4 separate regions of the Homo sapiens genome follow, and all the other regions are linked to region 1. The links come from fine-mapping of genetic effects on gene expression. A gene starts in region 1. Each other region holds a variant in brackets. All regions are shown on one strand. Distances are between the middles of the regions. Region 1 holds the start of CAPZB (capping actin protein of muscle Z-line subunit beta). Region 2 overlaps CAPZB (capping actin protein of muscle Z-line subunit beta). Region 3 has its middle 20 kb from the start of SLC66A1. Region 4 overlaps CAPZB (capping actin protein of muscle Z-line subunit beta).

The links.
Region 2: its variant is fine-mapped to the expression of CAPZB in lung (TOPMed, PIP 0.96).
Region 3: its variant is fine-mapped to the expression of CAPZB in whole blood (INTERVAL, PIP 0.98).
Region 4: its variant is fine-mapped to the expression of CAPZB in whole blood (INTERVAL, PIP above 0.99).

The regions. Positions count from the first base shown.
Region 1 is chr1:19,484,341-19,486,840 of GRCh38, reverse strand. It overlaps CAPZB (capping actin protein of muscle Z-line subunit beta), which reads left to right and starts at 1,302. Exons shown (of 9, transcript NM_004930.5): 1 at 1,302-1,405. The coding sequence starts at 1,403. It also overlaps a transcript of LOC105376819 not described here. RefSeq lists silencers at 726-1,455, 1,486-1,595 and enhancers at 1,500-2,008, 2,009-2,500.
Region 2 is chr1:19,352,835-19,355,572 of GRCh38, reverse strand. The region is part of intron 6 of CAPZB (capping actin protein of muscle Z-line subunit beta); the gene reads left to right. Among named protein-coding and RNA genes, the nearest start is that of SLC66A1, 42 kb to the right of the region's middle. RefSeq lists an enhancer at 1,646-2,330. The variant G/A (reference allele first, on the strand shown) is at 1,535.
Region 3 is chr1:19,331,108-19,333,845 of GRCh38, reverse strand. It overlaps a transcript of SLC66A1 not described here. Among named protein-coding and RNA genes, the nearest start is that of SLC66A1, 20 kb to the right of the region's middle. The variant G/A (reference allele first, on the strand shown) is at 991.
Region 4 is chr1:19,428,956-19,431,693 of GRCh38, reverse strand. The region is part of intron 1 of CAPZB (capping actin protein of muscle Z-line subunit beta); the gene reads left to right. Among named protein-coding and RNA genes, the nearest start is that of CAPZB, 55 kb to the left of the region's middle. RefSeq lists an enhancer at 429-1,317. The variant A/C (reference allele first, on the strand shown) is at 1,535.

The DNA.
Region 1 (2,500 bases):
AGTTTACCATCCCCTCACAGATCGCCTAATTTGATTTAACCAAAGCAAACAGGCCACGGAGGCAGATATTGTTAGCAATCCAGATCTCTCCTGCTACCTAGACTAAGCTTAACAAATATTTGATTGAGAGAGAGAGAGAGAGATTGGGAGAGAGAAACTTGAGTCACTTTGTGGAGCGAGGAAGCCCTTCTGGGCTAATGGAATGGTTCTCTGTAGCACATTCAACAGTACTCATAACAGCTAGCATTTGTTGAACTTAATTTTTTTTCTTTTGAGACAGAGTCTTGCTCTGTCGCCAGGCTGGGGTGCAGTGGCGCGATCTTGGCTCACTGCAACCTCTGCCCCCGGGTTCAAACGATTCTCCTGCCTCAGCCTCCCGAGTAGCTGGGACTATAGGAGCGAACCACCACGCCCAGCTAATTTTTGTATTTTTAGTAGAAACGGGGTTTCACCATGTTGGCCAGGATGGTCTCGATCTCTTGACCTTGGCCCGCCTCGGCCTTCCAAAGTGCTGGGATTACAGGCGTGAGCCACCGCGGCCGACCTGTTGAACTTAATTTTCTAATCTCTACCTGTGTCATCCTCACAGATATTCTGTCTGCAGCTATACCGGCAGGGATCTTTATGTCTTATCTGTTATCTTCCGGTGCCTAAACAAGGCCTGGCACATAGTAGGTGCTGAATAAATGGCGTCAGCCCGAGGCTCCTCAATTCGTGCCCGGGCTCAGGTGCAGCGCGGCGCTCCAGATCCTGCCGTAGCGAGCGGCAGCGCTGGGCTCCTGCCCCGCTCCCGGCGCGCTCCCCCAGTGCTGGGTTGGGCTGGGTTGGGCTGGGCCGGGCCGGTCCGCGCTCGGCGGCAGTTCCGGGTGCGCCGCAGGAGTGAGCGCGTGCACGGGGTGGGGCGCGGAGGGCCGGTCCCCTCCCAGCCGCGGTGCCTTCCGCATCCCCGCCCGCGGGGACTGTGGGGTGCGGTTCCCTCGCCGCCACTCGCTGCTGCAGGCCCAGAGTCGGGGACTGGACCTCAGACAGCCAGGAGACCTTTCCGCCCCGGCCCGCAACCCGTGCCGGGGACTCCCGGCAGCCGCGCCGCGCAGCGCCGCGCCCCGCCCCGCCTCGCAGGCCCCGCCCCCGCACCCCGTCGGCGCCCGCCTCTCGCGCCGCTCTCCATACTTGGCGATCGCCGCAGCCCCGCGCGCTCATTGGCCGCGAGCTGGCGGCGTGGGGGGCGGGCCCGGGCCGGGCCGGGGCGGGGAAGGAAGGTGGCGGCGGCCCGGCGCGGGGGGAGGGGGGTGCTGACCCGGATGTTCACTCCTGGGCACCCGGGGAAGTGGAAGCGCCGGGCCCTGCTGCGGGGGGGAGAGCCACTGACGCCGGGACCGGGACCGCCGCCGCCGCCGCCACCATGGTAAAGGCCGCACGGCCCCCTCCCCGGCCCGGGGGCCCCTCCGGAGCTCGCGTCCCCCTCCCCCTGCCCATCCCTGGCCTGGGACGGGTGGCTTCCCGGGGTGGGGGAGGGGCGGGGTCCCGGACCCTGGGTGGACCCGGTCCCTCCCCGCCCAGGAGGGTGCCGCCGGCGCGGACGACTTGGGTGGCAGTGACCCTGCCCCCGCTCCCAGCCCCCGCCCTTGGCGCAAGCTGGAGTCCCACTCACTACCTCTGTGTTCAGGCTGGTCTCTCCCATAGCCCAGGCTAGACCCTCCCTCCCGAACCGTGTCCCCAGCCAGGCACCCCCTCGGTGACCCTGGCGTGGGCCCCCTTCCTCCCCCGGTCTAGGGCTAGGTCTGCTTTCCCCCGTCTCTCCGGCCCAGGCTAGGCCGTCGTTTCTCCCTGCCATGGCCCAGGCTAGGCCGCTGCCTCCCTCTGTCCCTCCCCCTTTGCCTTCTCCATGGCCTCAGGCTGGACCCCGGTCAGCCCCTTCTGCAGCGGCCTAGGTTTGCTTCCCCTCTTCTCCGTGGCCTCAGCCTGAATCTCCTCTTCTCTCTGTGAACTTAAATCTGGACCTCCTCTTCTCCGCCCATGGCCCCCGTCTGGACCTCACTGCCCCCTCCCCACCATGATCCCCTTCCCTGGACTTTTCGCCACTCCTAGCGTAACCTGCGTCAGCCCCGCTCGGTCCCCGCCCTGAGCCTCTCATCAGGGTCCTGCCCCCTGCCTGGTGCACGACCCAGGGTCCCCTTCCCTGTACCTGGGGCGCGCCTTCTTTGCAGCCTTTGGGGAGCGAGGGGAGCTCTCCATCAGGGATGGGGTGGTCCCGGTGCTGTGCCTTCTCAGTTGCCGCTTCTAGGGAGGCCGCCTAGGAGCCAGCGAGGGAAGGGCGGGCATCGGTGTGCCCAGAAGGCAGCGCGCTGCTCTGCGGGCCCTTCTCGAGGCTGCCGCCGTGGGTGCTGTGCGTGCGAAGCATTCTGCAGGGCAGGCCGGGGTCCACGGCGCCCGGGCCTGAGTGGGAGCCGAGGGGCGAGGATGGGTGGCCCACAGGACAAGGATGAACGCACAATCGCCC
Region 2 (2,738 bases), 130 kb after region 1:
ATTATGCTCTCAATAGCTGTGGATAGAAAAAATATGACCGAAAGGATCGATGCAGTAAAATTTTTTTTTTTTTTTTTTGAGACGGAGTCTCGCTCTGTCACCCAAGCTGGAGTACAGTGGTGTGATCTCGGTTCACTGCAATCTCTGCCTCCCGGGTTCAAGCGATTCTCCTGCCTCAGCCTCCCGAGTAGCTGGGATTACAAGCGTGCACCACCACGCCCAGCTCATTTTTTGTATTTTTAGTAGAGATGGGATTTCACCATGTTGGCCAGGCTGGTCTTGAACTCCTGACCTCAAGTGATCCGCCCACCTCGGTCTCCCAAAGTGTTGGGATTACAGGCATAAGCCACCACACCCGGCCCAGTGTAGTAAATCTTTTAAGTGAATTTGCATTCTACTAGTTACAACAACATCTACATGCATTGAAAAAATAGTGGCGCAAGGTGAATGTCAGCCGTCATACCTGGGACCCTCCCTCCACCTATAGAAGCTCCACTGCCTCTCCTGTGTCAGAGGGGCTGGAGGCCAGAAGGGATGTTGCGGTCCTCTTTTTGGCCTCTGGGCAGGGATGTCACAGTCCCATCCCAGGACTACTCACTAGTGCACACAGGGGGCACTTAGCCTTTTTGCGTGGAAGTGGACTCCTATCTTCCAGGGGCCATTGGCTAGGGAGGAACAGCCAAACCCCCAGGCAGCCAGCTCCCCTGCAGCCTGACTCTCCCACATCCTGCCACCTGGGGAGTGGGTGGAAAATCCTGAATCTGTATCCAGAGACTGCTTCCTGTATCACTTACCACTCCAGGCTGTTGATAATTCCACCCGGTTTACAGTGACCTGGACAAATATTTAATCCTCAGCCCTCCTAATAGTTTAAATCAGAGCTGTCAGCCCATGGCCAGAGTCTGGTTCCGGCTTGCCGTGAGCAGTGTCTCCTGCCAAGCTAAACCCAGGCCTGATGAGTGCCTGTCCTCAGCACACCTTGGCCAGGGCTTCGGACTTTGTTTGCGTTGCCTTTTGCTCTGGGGGCTTTAATGAGGAAATTAATGCTCTGCCATCATTCTAACGGCCGATCACCACATCATTCATTTGAGGTGCATTAAAGCTGGGGCTGGGTTCCAATGTAAGTAACTACAGAAGGGGGAGGGATTGCAATGAGGTAGACAAATCTAAGTTAATGATGCACAGCTTCTGAGCAAACAGGGGAAGTGAGGGTTGCAGAGCTTGGCTACGGGTCCCAGAGGAGCCTTGGAAAAACGCCTGTGCTTGTTTGGATGGGAGGCGAAGGGTTCTGGGAGAAGTGAGCAGCTCAGTGAGCATGAACATGCATGGTTTGCAGGCTGTCCCCTTGGATTAGATTGTAACCAAGGTCAAGTTATTCTCATTTAACAGGTGAGGAAACTGAAGTTCAAACTTAAATAATTTGCCCATATAATTTAACCAGTAAGAAGCAAAGCTGGGATGTGAACCCAGATTTGCCTGGTGAGAAAAAAATATGCTACTTTCTACCATGCCACAACTGTTTTGGTCTTAATTC[G/A]TCCTCTGTGCCTGCCATTCGGTGACTGCTAAATAGTCAGATGGAAGTGCATGGAGCAGTCAGCTCAGTGTAGACAGGACTCTGTCTCAGCAGCCGGCATGAGCAGCTGCAGTGGACCTGTAGCCTCAGGAGCAAGCAGGCCCCGCAAGCAGGATCAACCCTGCAGAGCCGCACACGGCGTCAAGGCTCCCCAGGTGTGTGCTGAGCAGCGCTGCCCTCTGGGCCCCTCCCGCAGGTGTGCCTTTGTCTTTCAGGATGATCTCCTGCTGGAAGCCACTTGGCCACTGGGGTGTGTTCACTACTAGAGGCTGTCAGGAGGGCTTTGAGGTTTCTAGGGAGTCCAATGATCTGATTGGATCTGTGTTTTCAGAAGGTGGCTCTGCCAGTCGGCTTGGGGGATGGGTGGTCAGGGGGAAGCTGTTACAGTCATCAAGGAGAGAGATGACAAGGGCCTGGATCAGGCAGCCCTGGGAGGGTCAGAGGGGACAGCCCTGCAGCAGAGAGGTCAGTGAAGAAGCTAGTGTCAGTCTGAGGCATGAGGTGGCAAGGGCAGAAACAGAAGGGCAGGGGAAGAGGGGCAGGCTGGGGGGCATTCTGGCGTGGCGTGGTCAGGGGCTGGACGACCAAGATGTGAGGTGGGGGTCAGATGAGAGCCCCTCACTCGAGTTCCTCCTTACACAGTCCTTACAGCAACCTGGGCCTGGGTTTTTCCTCTGGAAACCTGGCCTCATCCAGGTCACCCACGCTCACATGCCCTTGCCCCACGTGTGTCAGGAAGGAAGGCTGCTTGGTTTTGGAGCTGTCTCCCCAGGCCCACAGTGCCAGGCCCTAGCCCCAAGAGCCATCCCAGCCAGCATCAGCACCCTCAGCAAGGCCCCATGGGTCCTCAGCTTTCCCAGGGTCCTGTGGCCCAGCCTGCCTCACCCCGGCAGCAGCGGCAGCTGCCCTTCCCTGTGTGTGGCCCCGGGCGCACCCTTGTCTTCCTGTTTCCCACGGCCCATCTGGAGAAGGCCGCCAGCTTTGGCTTGCTGGCACCTCGCAGGGGTCCCTTCCGTGGGCACATCAGGCTATGCCCTGTGCCCACTCGTGCCCCAGTGTAGGCGGCTGGTGGTAGGCCAGTGGCCGGGGCAGAGCGCCACTCTCCTGGGCACGTGGCCTGCCAGCCAGCCAGAACACAGCCAGACCAGGCGATGCTGCCTCCACC
Region 3 (2,738 bases), 150 kb after region 1:
TGCAGCCTTGACCTCCAGGGCCCAAGCAATCCTCCCACCTTAACCTCCCAGGTAGCTAGGTCTACAGGTGCACACCACCACGTTGCCCAGGCTGGTCTTGAACTCAGCTTACGCAATCCACCTGCCTCAGCCTCCCAAAGTGTTGGGATTCCAGGCATGAGTCGCCTCACCTGGCCAGTGGATCAGTTTAAAGCTTTACCATCTGGGGTAGTTGAGGCTCTGCACCTGGCTGTCACCCGGCACCTCTGGGGTCCCGTCATTCAGCTCCGATGAAAGCCAAGTCACACAGACAGAAAGGGTGGAGAGTGGTGAAGGTTGTGGCTTTCTCCCCTTCCTCGGCTTCAGGAATGGAAGGCCATGTCGTCTTGGCTGTGGCTTCAAAACCCTGGAATCCCAGCAAATTTGGGAGGCTGAGGTGGGAGGATCACTTGAGCTTAGGAGTTTGAGAACAGCCTGCTGGGCAACATGGCGAAACCCCATCTCTACCAAAAATACAAAAACTAGCTGGGCGTGGTGGCACTCAAGTGGGAGGATCACTTGAGCCCAGGAGGTGGAGGCTGCAGTAAGCCAAGATCGTACCACTGCACTCCAGCCTGGGTGACGGAGTGACTCTGTCTCAAAACAAAAACAAAAAACCAGGTTTGATAACTAATGGGACCTTGGGGCTGAGAGAGCCAGGGAGGGCGCGGGGTCCAGTGCTCGGCACAGGGCTGCCAGGACCATCCCTTCTGCTTTGCTGGAGAACGCCACCAGCTAAGCAACCAGCTTTTCTGTCCCATCCCATCCCCGGAACCTGAGGAAGCGAAGCAGCGTGTGTGCACAGCACTGGGCCAGGCACTGCGCATGTCACTTCCCCATACAGTGTCTCGTTCAACAGGTAAAACAGAACCTGCCAAGGCGGGGACCTCTGGGGGTGCCTGGCCCAACCTCATGCTCCATGTGGGCGTCCTAAGGGAGCCAGCCCTTCCTGGACAAGGGCAACTGGTAAGC[G/A]TGGTTCCATTTCCTTGATCACACCAAACTGTCCACACTTTTCCCTTCAGGCCACACCTGGAGACAAGCATCCTGCCATCCCATGACCTGCAGGAAGGAGCAGGAGGTGTAAGCCAGGGAGAAAGGGAAGCCACCTGTGGAGGCGTTTAACTTGGTAACATGTTTGCCCACCATCAGCAAACACGGCCCCATCAGTATGGCAGAATCCCATCGATGAGATTCGCCTTTATTGTAATTTTTTAAATTTTTGTAGAGATGGGGTCTTGCTATGTTGCCCAAGTTGGTCTTGAACTCCTTGGCTCAAGTGATCCTCCTGCCTCAGCCTCCCAAAATGCTGGGAATACAGGCGTGAACCACTGCACCCGGCCTTGGCCCTTCTCTTTGTGAGGAACCTGGGGGAGGTTCCAGGCATTGGTAAGCCCCCTGATGACAAGCAAATATAGCCATTGTTTATTTACCAGGCACTTACTGTGTGCCAGGTGCTGGGACACGAGCCTCCGTGCTCATCTTGATCACGGCTATGTTCTGAGGCAGACAGTGTTGTTGGTCTCATGGGATGAAGAAACGGCTTCGGACATCTGCTCAAGTCACAAGGCTCAGTGGCTGGGGCACACTTGGAGCTCAGTGTGCAGGACACAAAGTCTGTGCTCCCCGTCACCTGCCTCCAGCATCAGAATGTCACCAGCTCCTTCAACAGGGCTCCAGGGACCCAGGCCACCAAGTTCTTCCAGCCCCAACAGTTTGAATCCTCCTTGGGGCGCTGGAATGAGGCCTCCAAGGGAGAGGAGACTCAGGTTTGGATGAGCTGCAGGCCAGGTGCTCTCTGAAGGTAGGGGCTGTATCGCCTCCATCACACAGGGCACTCCCCAGGGGGAGGGGCCATGTCTTCCCCATCAGATTGGAGGCCTCCTGAGGAAGGAACCATAGCTCCTGCCTGAAAGTGCTATCACCCCAAAAGCTGGTGTTTCCCAGGAGGAAGGGATTATGTCACCCCATCAGAGAAGGGCCTCCAAGCAGGGGCTATGTTATCCCATCTCACTCTTCCCCACCCGGCCCCAGTTCAGGACCACACTTGGGGCTCATGTGGCTATACTGTGCCCCCAGATCTTCAGGCTGGAAGGGCACCTACTGGTCCCAGGTAACTGGTGTGGAGCCAGGTCCCAGACCCAGGTGGAGCGAGACATCTAGCTGGCACCTGAGGCAGGCACAGGCCAGGGCAAGCTGGGGCTTCGGGCCTGGGGGTAACTTATCCTGAAATCTCGGCAGGGCCAGAGGCTCAGCAAAGTCGCTATTCAGGATGGTGAGAAGGGAGCCTGGGTCCAGCAGGGTTCGGGCCACTCCTGAGGGTGAAGCTGAACTGCCACAAGCCATGGGCCCCCAGCAAGGATGGAGGAAGGGGACACGGGCCGCCAGCGTTGGCCAGGTGTGGGGTGGCTCCCAAAGCTGGAGGGTCTCGTGTTGCTGCTGCTCCTAGCTGGGCAAGCTGCTCAATTGTGCTGAGACTGTTCTCCCATCTGTAAAATGGCCATAAAAATACTCCCATCTTGGCCGGGCGCGGTGGCACACCTGTAATCCCAGCACTTTGAGAGGCTGAGGCAAGCAGATCACCTGAGGTAAGGAGTTCGAGACCAGCCTGGCCAACATGGTGAAACCCCGTCTCTACTAAAAATACAAAAATTAGCTGAGCGTGGCGGCAGGCGCCTGTAATCCCAGCTACTTGGGAGGTTGAGGCAGGAGAATCGCTCGAA
Region 4 (2,738 bases), 55 kb after region 1:
GCTGGTGTGCAGTGGTGCAATCTCGGCTCACTGCAAGCTCCGCCTCCTGGGTTCACGCCATTCTCCTGCCTCAGCCTCCCAAGTAGCTGGGACTACAGGCGCCCGCCACCACGCCCAGCTGATTTTTTGTATTTTTAGTAGAGACGGGGTTTCACCGTGTTAGCCAGGATGGTCTTGATCTGCTGACCTCGGCCAGATGGTCTTGATCTCCTGATCTCCACCCACCTTGGCCTCCCAAAGTGCTGGGATTACAGGCATGAGCCACCGTGCCCGGCCCAAAATCAACTCTATTCTTAAATTTTGACTGATGATTAAACTACAGGTTTCTTATCCGAAATGCTTGGGACCAGAAGCATTTTGGATTTGAGACTTCTTTGGATTCTTTTCAGATTTTGAATATTTGCAGAACTTACTGGTTGACCATTCCTAATCCGAAAGTCTGATATGCTCGTTGGAGCCTCATGTCTTCGCTCAAAAAGTTTGGGATTTGGATTTTTGGGTTAGGGCTGTTCAACCTGTATAAGCAGAAGCGCTAAACTGTGTACTAAAGAGATTTGTTTTCTGGTCATGGTTCATTTGCCATTATGTGATGTCTCATTTGTTATGGGTCAGTCCAGGCCTCAATTTTCCACCGTTTATATGGTTTCTAGGGTCCCCTTTAGTGTAACATCCCTGTTGATTCTGTGTTTTAAAGTTGGACAGGTGGAGGGGTATGCACACCCAAGAGAAAATGCTCCAGCTCACTCAGTTGGCCAGCAGAGCCAAGCACAGTGCCTGAGAAACGTGGCGGAGAGCCATCCTGAGCAATGAGTTTGTTGGTTGTCATGTGACCCAGGGTTTTTCTGTGCATCAGGTTAGCCCATTGTATATGTTGTAAAAAGCAGGCAGTGCTTGCCTTTAGGTAGAGCTGCTTGGAAGCTTCAGTGCACGGCTCAGGGATCAGCAAGCTCTCTGAGGTGCGGGTGCAGGTGCGGGTGCGGGTGGGCGGCCGCCAGCTGTGTGCTAGGAGTGACTAAAGTTGGTGGGTGCAGGGGTAAGAGATATATGCCTTAAAGGGGAAATAGAAGAGCAGCAGAATAAACCCCTGCATACTCTTCCTTGCTGGGCAGCGACTCTGCTTTGCCAATTAAAATGTGCTTGTACAGCCACCCTCCTCTGGCACTCTGGATGGCTAACTCCTTTTGGAGAATTTTTGTCATTTCGCCAGGTTCACCAGGTAAGCTTTGATCTCTGCAAAGGAACTGTTCTGTGTTCAGCAATTAGAGGTTTTGGAGTGTAAACAGTGAATTGGTTATCCAAAAAAACTACAGTGGAAGTATAGCTCCGACTCCTGAGTATGACTCATTTCGGATATTTCACTTCCTGGAGGGATGTGTAAGGGAAAGATCAACTGATGGCTGTTGTAGAGTTTGACACAGAGCCTGTGTGTAGTGTGTAGGTTGCTAAGTTTTCCTCTGGAATAAATATGCCAGGGAGAGGCGCGTGGAAATTTTCCTTGCCAGGGAGGGTGTCAGGGTAGTTTGGGGACTCTGCT[A/C]GTGCTGCCACAGTTGTCTGGTTTCGATGGCCTCAGATGGGGTTGGGAGCACCAGTAAATAGGGAGAAGGTTCAAATAGATGAGATGGTGGAAATATTTCTTGATGCTGTCCTGGGCTGGGGAAATGGAGCAGAGGGCTTCAGAAAGCAAGCTGCATGAGGGAGTTACTAGAGTGCAGGAAAACAAAGGGAAGGTGATCTTCCATGGACACATGTGGAATTCCTTCAGCTCTCACTGTCCCTGCCTCTCTTCTCCTTGTGGCTTTAGGGAAGCCATGTGCTCCGTCGTACTCAGGGCAGGGGCGGTTGTGTGGAGTGAGTGCTGTGCAAGCCTGCCCTCCTTTGTGGGTGCTTAATGACTTGGAAACTGACATAACACTCCGCCTACCTTTCTAGAGACTCCTGGCAGCCTGAATGGAAAACCTGTGTCAAGTGAGGGAAAAATCCAGGCAGAAAGGACCCTCTAGCACCTAAAAAATGTTATGTAAAAGTCCTGGCAGATAAGCCATGTGCTTTACTCTCTGGGAGAGTTCCTACCCTTTATGGAGGATGCTCTGTGGGCGGTGCCCTTATGGCCCAGACGTGGTACCTCATTCCCAGTGGCCCGTGAGGTAGACAGTACCGTCGGACCCAGGTTTTAAAGAAGACTGAGGTTCCAAGGGATGAGGTGGTGACTTGCTTATGCAGGTTGTATGGGAAAGTAGGAATTATTAGTATATCGTATCTCTGCCTTTAGAGTCTTGAACTTCTTCAAGAAAAGGAAGAAGTAATCTTCATATAGTGTCAAGGTACTTACAAACTATTTGTGGGCTGTGACTCTGGACCCCAAGTTATCAACCTGATTTATTCCTTCTCTCAGAGTTTCTTTTTTTTTTTTGTTTGAAATGAGAGCAGATTTCTAATTTTCTGGGTTCTCAACCTCATAGCAGATTAGAAGCAACATATTAGTTGAGGAAGTGTAGCTGACAGCCTGGCAGAAGAAGCAGATAAATGTAAAAAGCAGACACAGGGTGCTGTTCCAAGAGTGGCTACTCATACACTGTCCTTAGGCTAATGAGAAATGGTTTAGCTGTGTTCATTGCATTGTCCTGTGATCATTTGCATTGTGTAAAAATGTAGAGCAGGTAATACATTTTAGAGAGATTGCTGTCTTCTAGAATTTTTTTAAAAAGTTGATACCTTGATGACCTGGACAAATCACTGGG